Homo sapiens: one gene and its partner. Each later gene encodes a partner of the first gene's protein in a complex. Each region holds a gene or a part of one and is shown in the gene's direction. Other genes may lie near its edges.

Evidence for each region. Proteins that work in one complex are often made in the same cells at the same time.
Region 2: the proteins of NUMA1 (region 1) and GPSM2 are in contact, whole or in part, in a crystal structure (PDB 6HC2), measured with the Homo sapiens proteins. Residues at the interface, in NP_006176.2 of Homo sapiens: Ser1901 (codon at 2,198), Phe1902 (codon at 2,201), Tyr1903 (codon at 2,204), Met1904 (codon at 2,207), Gly1905 (codon at 2,210), Thr1906 (codon at 2,213), Cys1907 (codon at 2,216), Gln1908 (codon at 2,219), Asp1909 (codon at 2,222), Glu1910 (codon at 2,225), Pro1911 (codon at 2,228), Glu1912 (codon at 2,231), Leu1914 (codon at 2,237), Asp1916 (codon at 2,243), Trp1917 (codon at 2,246), Asn1918 (codon at 2,249), Arg1919 (codon at 2,252), Ile1920 (codon at 2,255), Ala1921 (codon at 2,258), Leu1923 (codon at 2,264); in NP_001307967.1 of Homo sapiens: Ala28, Leu29, Glu32, Cys35, Lys36, Phe47, Lys59, Thr60, Ser62, Ala63, Ile64, Ser66, Gln67, Asn70, Ala71, Phe73, Asn110, Lys113, Tyr146, His153, Lys157, Pro164, Gln165, Arg203, Gly206, Asn207, Asn210, Tyr213, Leu214, Arg228.

What each region holds. Positions count from the first base shown.
Region 1 is NC_000011.10:72,002,350-72,007,558, reverse strand, and holds the end of NUMA1 (nuclear mitotic apparatus protein 1), read left to right. Parts: exon of another isoform or gene 1-123; coding exon 124-370; exon of another isoform or gene 371-1,295; coding exon 1,296-1,524; exon of another isoform or gene 1,525-2,014; intron 2,015-2,189; coding exon 2,190-2,326; intron 2,327-2,742; coding exon 2,743-2,919; intron 2,920-3,217; coding exon 3,218-3,334; intron 3,335-3,459; coding exon 3,460-3,672; intron 3,673-4,020; coding exon 4,021-4,032; 3' UTR 4,033-4,695; downstream 4,696-5,209. UniProt on the Homo sapiens protein: Microtubule (MT)-binding protein that plays a role in the formation and maintenance of the spindle poles and the alignement and the segregation of chromosomes during mitotic cell division.
Region 2 is NC_000001.11:108,893,962-108,900,991, forward strand, and holds part of GPSM2 (G-protein-signaling modulator 2), read left to right. Parts: intron 1-2,902; coding exon 2,903-3,124; intron 3,125-3,530; coding exon 3,531-3,666; intron 3,667-3,997; coding exon 3,998-4,140; intron 4,141-4,680; coding exon 4,681-4,804; intron 4,805-4,917; coding exon 4,918-5,033; intron 5,034-7,030. UniProt on the Homo sapiens protein: Plays an important role in mitotic spindle pole organization via its interaction with NUMA1. Required for cortical dynein-dynactin complex recruitment during metaphase. Plays a role in metaphase spindle orientation.

The sequences.
Region 1 (5,209 bases):
AGAGATGGGCTGCTTGACCTCATCTGCTTGTAGTAAGGATGGGAAATGGTCACTTTCAAAAAGGGCTGGACAAAATGCCTTCTAGCGTGAAGGACTGTACCTCAGCAGGTTTCCTTTCCATAGCAAGCTGCCTCGTACCCAGCCAGACGGCACCAGCGTCCCTGGAGAACCAGCCTCACCTATCTCCCAGCGCCTGCCCCCCAAGGTAGAATCCCTGGAGAGTCTCTACTTCACTCCCATCCCTGCTCGGAGTCAGGCCCCCCTGGAGAGCAGCCTGGACTCCCTGGGAGACGTCTTCCTGGACTCGGGTCGTAAGACCCGCTCCGCTCGTCGGCGCACCACGCAGATCATCAACATCACCATGACCAAGGTCAGGCTGCTGGGACAGGGGCTGCAGGGCAGCAATTCCCACTTCCTCTCAAGGGCATCTTTGCACTGGGCACTCAGTCAGGAGCAGGGAGGGATGAGCAGCCAGTCCATGTTACAGTGGGAAAGCTGAGAGGTCTTAAAAAGGGCAGTGACTTGGTTAAGGGCACTTCTGAAGAAAAAGGCAGGGCTAGGATTAGATCCCTGCCTCCTGACTAAGGCTAGCATTCTCTCCATGCGTAGCACTGAGCCTGTGCAGGGTGAAGGGAGAGAACGTGGCGAAGCTGCAGCCCATCCTGTGCCTCCCAGCATGCCCCATGCAGCTGAGAGGCATTGTTGCTGCCCAGTGGACTGCCTGACAGGCTACAGGCCCTTGCCTTTGTTTCCACATCTTGAAGGGGAGGTTTGGGAGGAGGGGAGAGGGGCCCCTGGTACAGCAGGGGGGACCTGTGTGTTTAGGGTGCCCCCTGCTACCAAGAAGTTGGGGAAGTTCTGGAACATGGTAAGGGCCCTGGAAGTTTGGACTGAGGGACAGCAGAGGCTGTGGGATGAGCCTGACTAGTCAGGAGACATGGGGCCTAGCCCCAGCTCTGATACTTCCTAGCAGTGTGATTTGGGGCTAGTCACTTTATTTCTTTGCACTTCATCTCCAAAATGGGCCGATAAACACTCTGCATTCCCTACCTCAAAGCATTATGAATAGACTCCATGAAAAAAATGCGTAGAAGAGTCTTGACAACATCAGCACCACCTTGTGAGGGCTTCTGTCGACAAGGCCCATTTCTTGCAGACACACACTTTAAGGACCTTTGCAAAGCAGTTGGGAATACATGGATGTGCCGTGGGATCTGAGGGCTTCGGAAGGGAATGGGAAGCTTCTGTACAGTGCCAGGGACTGTACACTGCAACAGATTCACTCTGTCTTCCAGAAGCTAGATGTGGAAGAGCCAGACAGCGCCAACTCATCGTTCTACAGCACGCGGTCTGCTCCTGCTTCCCAGGCTAGCCTGCGAGCCACCTCCTCTACTCAGTCTCTAGCTCGCCTGGGTTCTCCCGATTATGGCAACTCAGCCCTGCTCAGCTTGCCTGGCTACCGCCCCACCACTCGCAGTTCTGCTCGTCGTTCCCAGGCCGGGGTGTCCAGTGGGGCCCCTCCAGGTGAGGGGACTACAGGGACTTACTATACCCCAAAATTAGACTGGAAGGTGGATCGTGGCACAGGGAAAAGAGGAAAGCTTTTTAAAAATCCAAGGCTGGCCTCCTTGCTACCATCCAGCTCCACCTGCCCCTCCTTCCTGCAGCCTCAGGGCCTTCCTTACCTGCCCATCTAGGGGCTGGCTGTGTTGGGGGCACTCTTAGCCAGAGTTAAGGGCCCGGGATTCCCAGCACAATTGTGACACTTAGCTGTGGGGAGTCCTCCATGCCCTTCTCAGGCGGTGATGGGCTGCTGGAAAGGCCAGGCTGGCCAGACTCTTCTTGGAAGCTCTTGTCCTTTGGGCACCAGGGAGCCCCTGGGAATTAATTCCCGGTCCTTAATTTGTTCCTCTGGGTGTTGGCCACCAAGCCTTGGCAGGTGAGTAAGATGTAGTAGCAGTCTCTGCGTGTGACCTCTTCTGCCCTCTCCAGGGAGAAGGTGGTGAGCAAGCCCCTAGGATAGAAATAGTCTGTGTGCCGTACTCCTGCACCTGCGGCACTGAATCAGACTGGTGTGCTGGGCTTCAAGTTTATGGGGTAGGTGGCAGCAAAGGCTGGCAAGATGCCAGGGCCAGGAGGTGACCTGCCGACTCCAGGCTCATTTGTTCCCACTTCCCTGCCTTCCACAGGAAGGAACAGCTTCTACATGGGCACTTGCCAGGATGAGCCTGAGCAGCTGGATGACTGGAACCGCATTGCAGAGCTGCAGCAGCGCAATCGAGTGTGCCCCCCACATCTGAAGACCTGCTATCCCCTGGAGTCCAGGGTGAGGCCTGGGGTCACTGTGCAGGGCCTCCCATCCCTGCCCTCCCTTGGAATCCCACCTGCTGATCTAGCCTGAGCACTAGGGCCCTGGATCACTGACTGGCCGAGGAGGGGGAGGGTGACCTTCTCATGTTTCCAGGTGGAACAGACAGCTGGGAGGGCACTCAGGGGTGAAGTCCCTTGGGGTAGGCAGGAGCTCAGAGAGGAATCTGGTCAGGACTGCACTGCTTGTGGCCATTTGCCCAGGGCTTAGGTAGAAAGCAGAACAGGAAAGGAGGCCTTGTGTCTTTCTACCTCGTGAGGCAGGAAGGGTCCCGACCATAAGTGTCGGGCGAGTGTAGAGTTCTGGGACAGCCCCAGGTCCTCCTCCATCTCCATACAGCTATGGTCCACTGACCACCTCTTCCACCCATGCAGCCTTCCCTGAGCCTGGGCACCATCACAGATGAGGAGATGAAAACTGGAGACCCCCAAGAGACCCTGCGCCGAGCCAGCATGCAGCCAATCCAGATAGCCGAGGGCACTGGCATCACCACCCGGCAGCAGCGCAAACGGGTCTCCCTAGAGCCCCACCAGGGCCCTGGAACTCCTGAGGTAGGCGCGGTGGCTCCTGGGTGTTACTCCAGCACTGTGCTCAGGTCAGGCCCAGCTCACCAAGGACTAAAGGGAGCCTTCTCTCTCCTTCCCTCACTTCCCCCTCTCTTTCCCTCTCTCCAAGGGCCTGACCCATGGATGGGAACTGTTGGGAAGGGAAGGATCTGGCCCAGAGTTGGGAAGGGGAGCAGGTTGCACGTTGACTTACAAGGTCCACTCAGCTCTGAGAGGACAAGACACCTGGCTTCAGATGTGACTCCTCTTGCTACTGTCTGCCTAACTGTCCTCTTCTCCATAGTCTAAGAAGGCCACCAGCTGTTTCCCACGCCCCATGACTCCCCGAGACCGACATGAAGGGCGCAAACAGAGCACTACTGAGGCCCAGAAGAAAGCAGCTCCAGCTTCTACTAAACAGGTGAGGCTGGGGCTGAAGGGGGATGAAGCGACGCCCTGGCGGGACCTTGCTGATAGAGCGTGGCACAGCACGCTGGCCTGGGAAGGCAGCATTGGGTCTCCCGGTCTGACAGCCCTTCCTTGCAGGCTGACCGGCGCCAGTCGATGGCCTTCAGCATCCTCAACACACCCAAGAAGCTAGGGAACAGCCTTCTGCGGCGGGGAGCCTCAAAGAAGGCCCTGTCCAAGGCTTCCCCCAACACTCGCAGTGGAACCCGCCGTTCTCCGCGCATTGCCACCACCACAGCCAGCGCCGCCACTGCTGCCGCCATTGGTGCCACCCCTCGAGCCAAGGGCAAGGTAGAGGCACTGGCAGGATGGGGGAGGGAAACCCGATGAGAGCATGGGCACCCCCCAGACCGCCCCACCAAGTAGCATCCAAGATGGGGCCACGCCAGGCTGCTGGAGGGTGTGGGGTAAGAGGTGTCCCTGTCCTGGTAGCTCCTCTCCAAGGAGAGAAGACAGATGGCCCCATTCTCATGGAGAGCACCCAGAGCTGCTCAGGCACAGCCAGCAACTGATAACCCTGGGGCTCACAAGGGAGGGGATCCAGACAGGGGCGTGGGAGCAGGAAGAGATCTTCCCAGCCAGTGGGTGCAGGCTAGTATCGCAAGTTCTCATCTGGCCATGTGACTGTGTCTCTTTCAGGCAAAGCACTAAAGGGCCAGTACCAGTGAGTGGCCCCACCTGTGTCCCCGATGCTGACCTCACCTGGTCCTCCGCCTACTGTCCCTCTCAGTGCCTTCTCTCAGCTCCCAGGCCAACAGTAGCCAAACCCCTAGAGACAGTGATGCCTGCCCGCACCCTGGCCTGGTCCCTGGTCCTTCACTGGCGCCTTCTCGGAGCTGGCCCAGGGGGCCTGGAGCATGGACAGTGTGGGCGCTCTCCCTACCTTGCCTCCTTTTTTCTTAAAGCAAAGTCACTTCTCCATCACAACCAGATTTGAGGCTGGTTTTGATGGCTGGGTCCTTGGGCCTGGCCAGTCTTCCTCTTAGCCTCTGGATCTAGAAGGGACCATAAGAGGAGTAGGCCCTGGTTCCTGCTGTCCTGGTGGCTGGGCCCAGCAGGGGCCCTCACTCTTGAAGTCCAGGACTGGGTCTGACCTGGTGGGAGCACCTGCCAGAGGATGCTCTTTCCCAGGACGGATGGGCCCTATGTCTCAGGAGTGGGGTTGGGGGACAGCCTTCAGCAGCAGCTCACACCCTACCTTCCCCAGACTTGCACTGGGGTGGGATTTGGAGTGATGGGAAGGTTTTTAAGGGCCGGGGATGGATCTTTTCTAAATGTTATTACTTGTAAATAAAGTCTATTTTTCTCCCGTGAGTACTGAGTTGACTTGATCGGTGTGGGAAAAAGAGGAATATAGGCTCTTTGAAGCCTACCTTGTTCCTGCTGAGTCTTCCATACCACCTCCTTTCTCTCATCCCTTTTCCTGAGGCCACATCTTTCCAGGCTCTTCCCACTCTCCATTAGTGGCCTCTGCTCCCGGGGAGCATTATGGGCTGTTCTCTCTTTTCTTTTTCAAGCGCCTGTGTTCCCCTGAAGCAGGTGTTGTCTTCAGCTTCTGTGTGGCAGTCCCTCTCTCCCATACTCCCTCGTGGGACAGGCAAAGTTCCTGGGAGTGGAACTGAAGCCTAAATGAACAGATGTCAGGATGCCTCCATTGAATAATCCTTTATGAGGACCCATGTGGGGATGACACAGATACAGTGTGGATCCGAAGCAGCTGCTGCCCCCATCCCTTCCCTGGAACAGTCCATTAGAGTGAAGGGGGAAAAAAAAAACATACAGCACGAAGATAGGAAGTCTGCAGAATGCGGCCAGAGCTGAAAGAGGA
Region 2 (7,030 bases), on another chromosome or scaffold:
GAAGAATTGCTTGAACCCAGGAGGCGGAGGTTGCAGTGAGCCATTGCGCTCCAGCCTGGGTGACAGAGTGAGACTCCATCTCAAGAAAAAAAAAATTACATTTTTATATATCTTTTGTTGATTTATTTATCTTTATACATAGAATATGACAATAACTTCATAAAATCTTAAACAGATATACTCAATTTTTTCTTTTATGAAATATCTCATTTTCAGAAATACAATTCTAAAGGGCAGTTTTCATTTTTGGAAGGCAAAAATAGGCTTTATTAATTGTGAAGTGACATATAAAGAAACATAAATATAGCTGTTTAAGGTTTCTGATTTAACTGCTTATCTTACTATGTATTTTAGATCTTCTCTCCTGTATCTAATTGGCTTGTAGTCTAATATTGTAGCAAAATGTTGGAGGTTTACCTGCATTATTTTGCATAGATCCATAAAGTGAAGATGGGGCCAGCCATGGTGGCTCACACCTGTAATCCCAGCACTTTGGGAGGCCAAGATGGGTGGATTGCTTGAGGTCAGGAGATTGAGACCAGCCTGGCCAACATGGCAAAACCCTGTCTCTACTAAAATTACAAAAATTAGCCAGGCATGATGGCACATGACTGTAATCCCAGCTGCTCAGGAGACTGAGGCACGAGAATCACTTGAACCCAGGAGGCAGAGGTTGCAGTTAGCCAAGATTGTACTGCTGCACTCCAGCCTGAGTGACAGTGAGAGACTGTGTCTCAAAAAAAAAGTGAAGATGAGCAAGCAGTAGCCATTGGCTAAGTCATTTGAATTCTTAAAAAAAAAAAAGATACCTAGATAGAAAACTTGAAAATTACCTATTGGAATTGGCTACATATATCTGCTTGTTCTAAACCAGAAGTCTGCTTTGAACCTTTACAATTGGCTCAGTTTATCTTTGTCCAGGCTTTTAGCTTCATCAGGTACATTTTCTACTTTACAATCCCATTTTAATTTATGGCTCTAAGGACCCTTGAAATTTTGCAGACTGAAAAACAGCACTCACAAAAACATGTTAATTGATCTACCACTAGATATACAGAGTATAATCATATTTGAATGATATTAGGGTGGGTGGTGGTTTAATTCACATTTCTTATAAAAGCACTGATTCTCAACCCTAACTTGTACTTTAGAATTACCTGGGGCTTTAAAAAAATACAGGTGGCCAGACATCACCCAGAGGGTGGAGTTCAGCGTTGGGAGTTTTAGAAAGTGCTCCAGGTGAGCTCTGCTGTTGTACAGCCAGCATTAAGAACAACTGCTCTATTGGAGTGGCTCAAAGCTCATTCTAGTAAGGAGTAACTTAATGCTGTTCCAAAAATTAAAACATTTGATGAGCTTAATCAGAGCTTCTCAAAGAGTGATATGTATGCCACTGGTGGTACATAAGGTAACTTTACTCACTTTTAGATTTTAATAATTTCATATTTGTTTAATGTGTATTAGAACGGGGTTCCCAACCCCTGGGCCACAGACCAGTACTGTTGTAGCCTGTTAGGAGGTAAGCTGCAGGTGGGCAGGACGAGTGAGCATTTTCACCTGAGCTCCGCCTCCTGTCAGATCAGCAGTACCATTAGATTCTCATAGGAGTGCAAACCCTATTGTGAACTGCACATTCGAGGGATCCAGATTGCACATTCCTTATGAGAGTTTAATGCCTGATGATCTGTCACTGTCTCCAGTCACACCCAGAGGAGACCATCTAGTTGCAGGAAAACAAGCTCAGGGCTCCCACTGATTGTACATTATGGTGAATGTATAGTAACAAGAGGAATAAAGTACACAATAAATGTAATGCACTTGAATCATCCCAAAACAATCCCCTGCCACCCGTCCATGGAAAAATTGTCTTCCACAAAACCGGCCCCTGGTGCCAAAAAGATTGGAGACCGTTGTATTAGAATATACATATAAGTATCGTATCAAATTCACAGTTTCATGAGTACTGCTTTGGATGAAGCTCCATTTTTTTAAAATGATAAGTTAAAGATAGTGTGCCAATTTAAAGGAAATTTGCCAAATTACAGAAATAATTAAACGAATAGGTAGTTCCTACATATGGCAGAAATCATGAAGATGCTGAAGAAACACAATGGCAACTTTGGTGAAGGGCACCCTCTAAAATTTAGGATTTGAATCCAAAGTATCAGTGTTTTTTTCTCCCAGATATGTTTACAGTGACTTAATCCTTCTTTTTCAATTCAGGGACAGACTTTCAAAATTAGTATTTCTGCAAATTTTTGAATCATTGTTTTCTAACTTAGTTTCTTGACACCTAGTTCTCTTGTGAAAATGTGTCTTACAGATCAAGAATATTTTGTTCCTCTATTTTTCTAGGGTATAAGTGGACATGTGGTGGTAAGAAGAGGAAGGAGAGTGAGTGTGTGTTGTGTGTGTATGAGAGAGAGAGCGAGGGATGGATGGCTGGATGGTCAGAGGGGCTGATGAACAGGTGACTAGATTACTTGGATACCTGGGTAGAGAACAATATTAATAATTGTAGGGCCTCACTTTCCTACATACTCATCTTCTCAGACTCTAAGGAAGTCCAGAGGTCTGTTACAACTCAGAATTGTTTGGGAAATACTGCTTTAGGCTCTTTCACTAGTAACGTGGATTGCTCTGGGCCAATTAAAATGAGCTCCACATAAAGATATTTAGCTATCCTGACCTCTCTGAGCAGGCTCAGAGAAATTCGAATAGGCAAATTACCTCTTGCTACAAATAACTGCTTACTGTTTTATCAGGAATGTATATAAACTTCAGTTATAGAGGCAGCTGCCCTGAACAAGAGTAGCCGCTTAAATTATATTACGGGAAGTTAAAAATACTGTGATGCAGCTGTAATGTTATGTTTAAATGTCTGTCCTGTATAATTTTGTAGAATGGAAGCTTCTTGCCTAGAGCTGGCCTTGGAAGGGGAACGTCTATGTAAATCAGGAGACTGCCGCGCTGGCGTGTCATTCTTTGAAGCTGCAGTTCAAGTTGGAACTGAAGACCTAAAAACACTTAGCGCTATTTACAGCCAGTTGGGCAATGCTTATTTCTATTTGCATGATTATGCCAAAGCATTAGAATATCACCATCATGATTTAACCCTTGCAAGGTAATTAATTTAAGCTTTTAAATATTCTTCCTTCTGAAATTAGCTATTACTTTAAAAAATATTTCTATTCAATTAACAAAAACTAACTTAATACATTTAATGAGTTCTACTTCAGTAACATCGCTTTTCAAAACTAACCTTTAGGCTGAACACAGTTTAATTGAATGAATAGTAGTGAATTGACCCTAGAGTTTAATTAAATGGATGAAAACTAATTACATTCAAATCCAGAAATGTAAGTTTTAAATATTTATTTAAAGTAGGTTTCAAAGCCAATGGGTTTTTCTTACCTTAAGCATGTCAGTTTGTCCTCTTGGAAAACTGTACTCTGGCTACTTTATATTTTAACACCATTTGTATTTTAATACCATTTGGTTTTTTGTTTTTTGTTTTTTGTTTTTTTCAGGACTATTGGAGACCAGCTGGGGGAAGCGAAAGCTAGTGGTAATCTGGGAAACACCTTAAAAGTTCTTGGGAATTTTGACGAAGCCATAGTTTGTTGTCAGCGACACCTAGATATTTCCAGAGAGCTTAATGACAAGGTAATACCGCAGCATTAGATGGTAGGCCTAATATTTTCATTCAAAGGGCTTTGCATTTTAATACTATTTAATTATTCTATAGTTTATTTTAAAATTAATACCAAAAAAGAAAACATTTATAGACTAATAGAAGTAAAAGAAAAAAAATTTAATGGAGAAAAAGAAGGAAATAGTAAGAGGTCTTTCATAAGTAATTATTTGATTGGTTCTGTATGGAGAGCCAATATAAAAATTTTTTTCCCTTGTCCGTAATACTAAGGATATTACAAATATATATGATAAACCTGACCTCTGTTTTCAAAATGTAAACTTTGCTGATGTCTTCATTTAGGTGGGAGAAGCAAGAGCACTTTACAATCTTGGGAATGTGTATCATGCCAAAGGGAAAAGTTTTGGTTGCCCTGGTCCCCAGGATGTAGGAGAATTTCCAGAAGAAGTGAGAGATGCTCTGCAGGCAGCCGTGGATTTTTATGAGTGAGTAGGGGCTGATATGGGCAGTCATGTAGGCCCATCTAAGCCGTGGATCTGCTGTACGTTCTTTATTCAGTAGTAAGTTTTTAAGTTTGGCAAAGATTTTAAAGTTATGAACTAGCAAAATCATCAATTCAGTTGCTTAAATGTTACAGTGTTATATTAGTAGTAATCTGCAGCTTTCATTTAAGTTGCAGACCAGTGCCACTTAGTGGCAAAAGCAAGAAATGTCAATGGTTGGTCTGTTATTTAGAGTAATTTAGTCTTTTACCAATAGAATTTCATAGAACTACTTAACTATAGGGGTTCCAAGATTAACTCTGTGCTTGACCCTGGGCAGAAACCTATCTGAATAGTTTAATAAAGTGTTCCCAGCTATTTCCTATAATTGCTCTTCATCATAGATGTCATCCTTAAAATGTTGCACATTATGGCTGTAAGCTTCCCTACATTTTTTTCTGATAAAAAGAATTAGATATGTAAATCACATACATAAAATTGTTCTGCAAACTTATTTTTTCATCACTTTTTGCGATCCCTTAGGGAAAACCTATCATTAGTGACTGCTTTGGGTGACCGAGCGGCACAAGGACGTGCCTTTGGAAATCTTGGAAACACACATTACCTCCTTGGCAACTTCAGGGATGCAGTTATAGCTCATGAGCAGGTACAGTGGAAAGCCTTGGAGCCAGATCATTTCCTCCATCAAAGTTCTGAACAGTGATTAGATCATTCTTCAGTTTTATTTTATCTACATCTAATTAAAATTGTTTGTTTCAGCGTCTCCTTATTGCAAAAGAATTTGGAGATAAAGCAGCTGAAAGAAGAGCATATAGCAACCTTGGAAATGCATATATATTTCTTGGTGAATTTGAAACTGCCTCGGAATACTACAAGTTAGTCTAATATTTCTGTAGATAAATGTAAAATGAATACTCAGTCCCATTAATTCATAGGCTTTAGGTTTAAAATCTGATTGTAGCAGAACTTTTGGCATCTAAGCCTCAATTTCCTTATCTGTAACAGAATATATCAATACTTCATTTTGGGGAATGCTGTGAGGATTGAATGAAATAATATACTAAACACAGTATCTGGTACACAGTGCTCAATAAATATTATTGTACATAAGATTTAATAGCAGCAGTATGACCCCTTTATAATATTGGTTTTTATCTTTAAAAGTAATTGTTTTTAAATGAAGTTTTCAACCTTTAATATCTTTTAAACCTGTTTAGCATATGTGGTGTATATTGTGTATATGCTTTATTTCACTCAGTTATGGGTTAGAAGAGAGGCCAAAAGAAAGCCTTGTAACAAAAATATTTATAGTCTATACCAGTGATCACTGAATTTTTTTCTCTACCTTCCCACCCTCTTATTGAGCAGTTCTCCCTTTACCCTCTTTCTGCCTATATTTGACTGTCACTGTAAGCTGAGTCCCCCATTCACTTACCTGAAGCATTTACAATCCCAGCTTCTTCTGTGGCAGGATCTCTCTTATCAGTAGATTTGAGACATAGATGATAGAAAGTTTAGACAGCTTCAAGTTGCCTGATCTGTGCTTTCTAGATTGAGTTTTCCCTAGTTAGTGGGGATTGAAGCCTCTTACAGATTTTGGGTAGAAGGCAGTTTGACTAAACCGAAGACACAGTGATTGATTTGTATTTTGTTAAAGAAGCCAATATGAGACAGTTCTGGATAATTTGTCATCTTCATAAAAAAGGTAAAATTGTTTTAGGCCTATCTAAAAAAATTAAATAGCATTCCACTTTGCTTTAAACATCAACTAATGGTTAATATTTGTTGGTTAGGTTAGTTAGATATGAAATAGCCTCCCAAATAAAATATATCACTGTGTACTATGTGAAGGAGTATATATTTTGATTTTAAATATAAAAATTTCCTATATTTAAAGCCAAGGGATATAGAGAAGTCTTAATTATTAAATGGTGTATCTGTGTTAAATACTGAAAGGTTCTATTATAAAATGGATAGTGGCTATTTGACTAAAGAAGCATGAATATAAAGTAATGAAACTTAGTTTTTTTCCTCCCAATAAGCAGGCTAGAACTCAGAACTTTATATATATTCCAAGTCGTTGGTTAGAAATATTTTTAGAACTCTTCTTTAGATTTTTTTTTTTTTTTTTTTTTTAAATACGGAGTTTTGCTCTTGTCGCCCAGGCTGGAGTGCAATGGCACAATCTTGGTGCACTGCAACCTCGGCCTCCCCGGTTCAAGCGATTCTCCTGCCTCAGCTTCTGAGCAGCTGGGATTACAGGTGTCTGCCACCACGCCCAGCTAATTTTTGTATTTTTAGTAGAGACGGGGTTTCGCCATGTTGGCCAGGCTAGTCTGGGACTCCTGACCTCAAGTGATCCGCCCACCTCAGCCTCCCAAAGTGCTGGGATTACAGGCGTGAACCACCACACCCAGCCTGGAATTGTTATCAGGGCCAAACAAGAAGGCTAACAATGTAGATCCATATCCTTCCGGATACAAAGCAGTAGTTTGGTAAACCTATGTTAGTAATTGAATTTGGTTCCAGAAAGATTTCTGATCATTTACAAATCAACTGTACCATCAAAGAATAATGGTATGCCAGAAAGCATTATGCCACAGGATCTGAAAGCAATTCCAAAAGTCTTTCAAAAATATTTGAAAAGACAGGCAACATTAGAATAAGTAGGTAGCCTCCCAAGGTGACAGATTTGAAGGTATCATCATTAAATATGTAACTTTAGATTTGTTTGCTTAAAAAAAGCTATCACGTTACCGCATAGTAATTTGTCATATAGTTATAAGTGATATGAAGTAATTATACTATTTGACAGAAATAATGGGAGGGTCATTTAAATTACTGAATCCAAAAGCATCTATAGGTTTAAGCA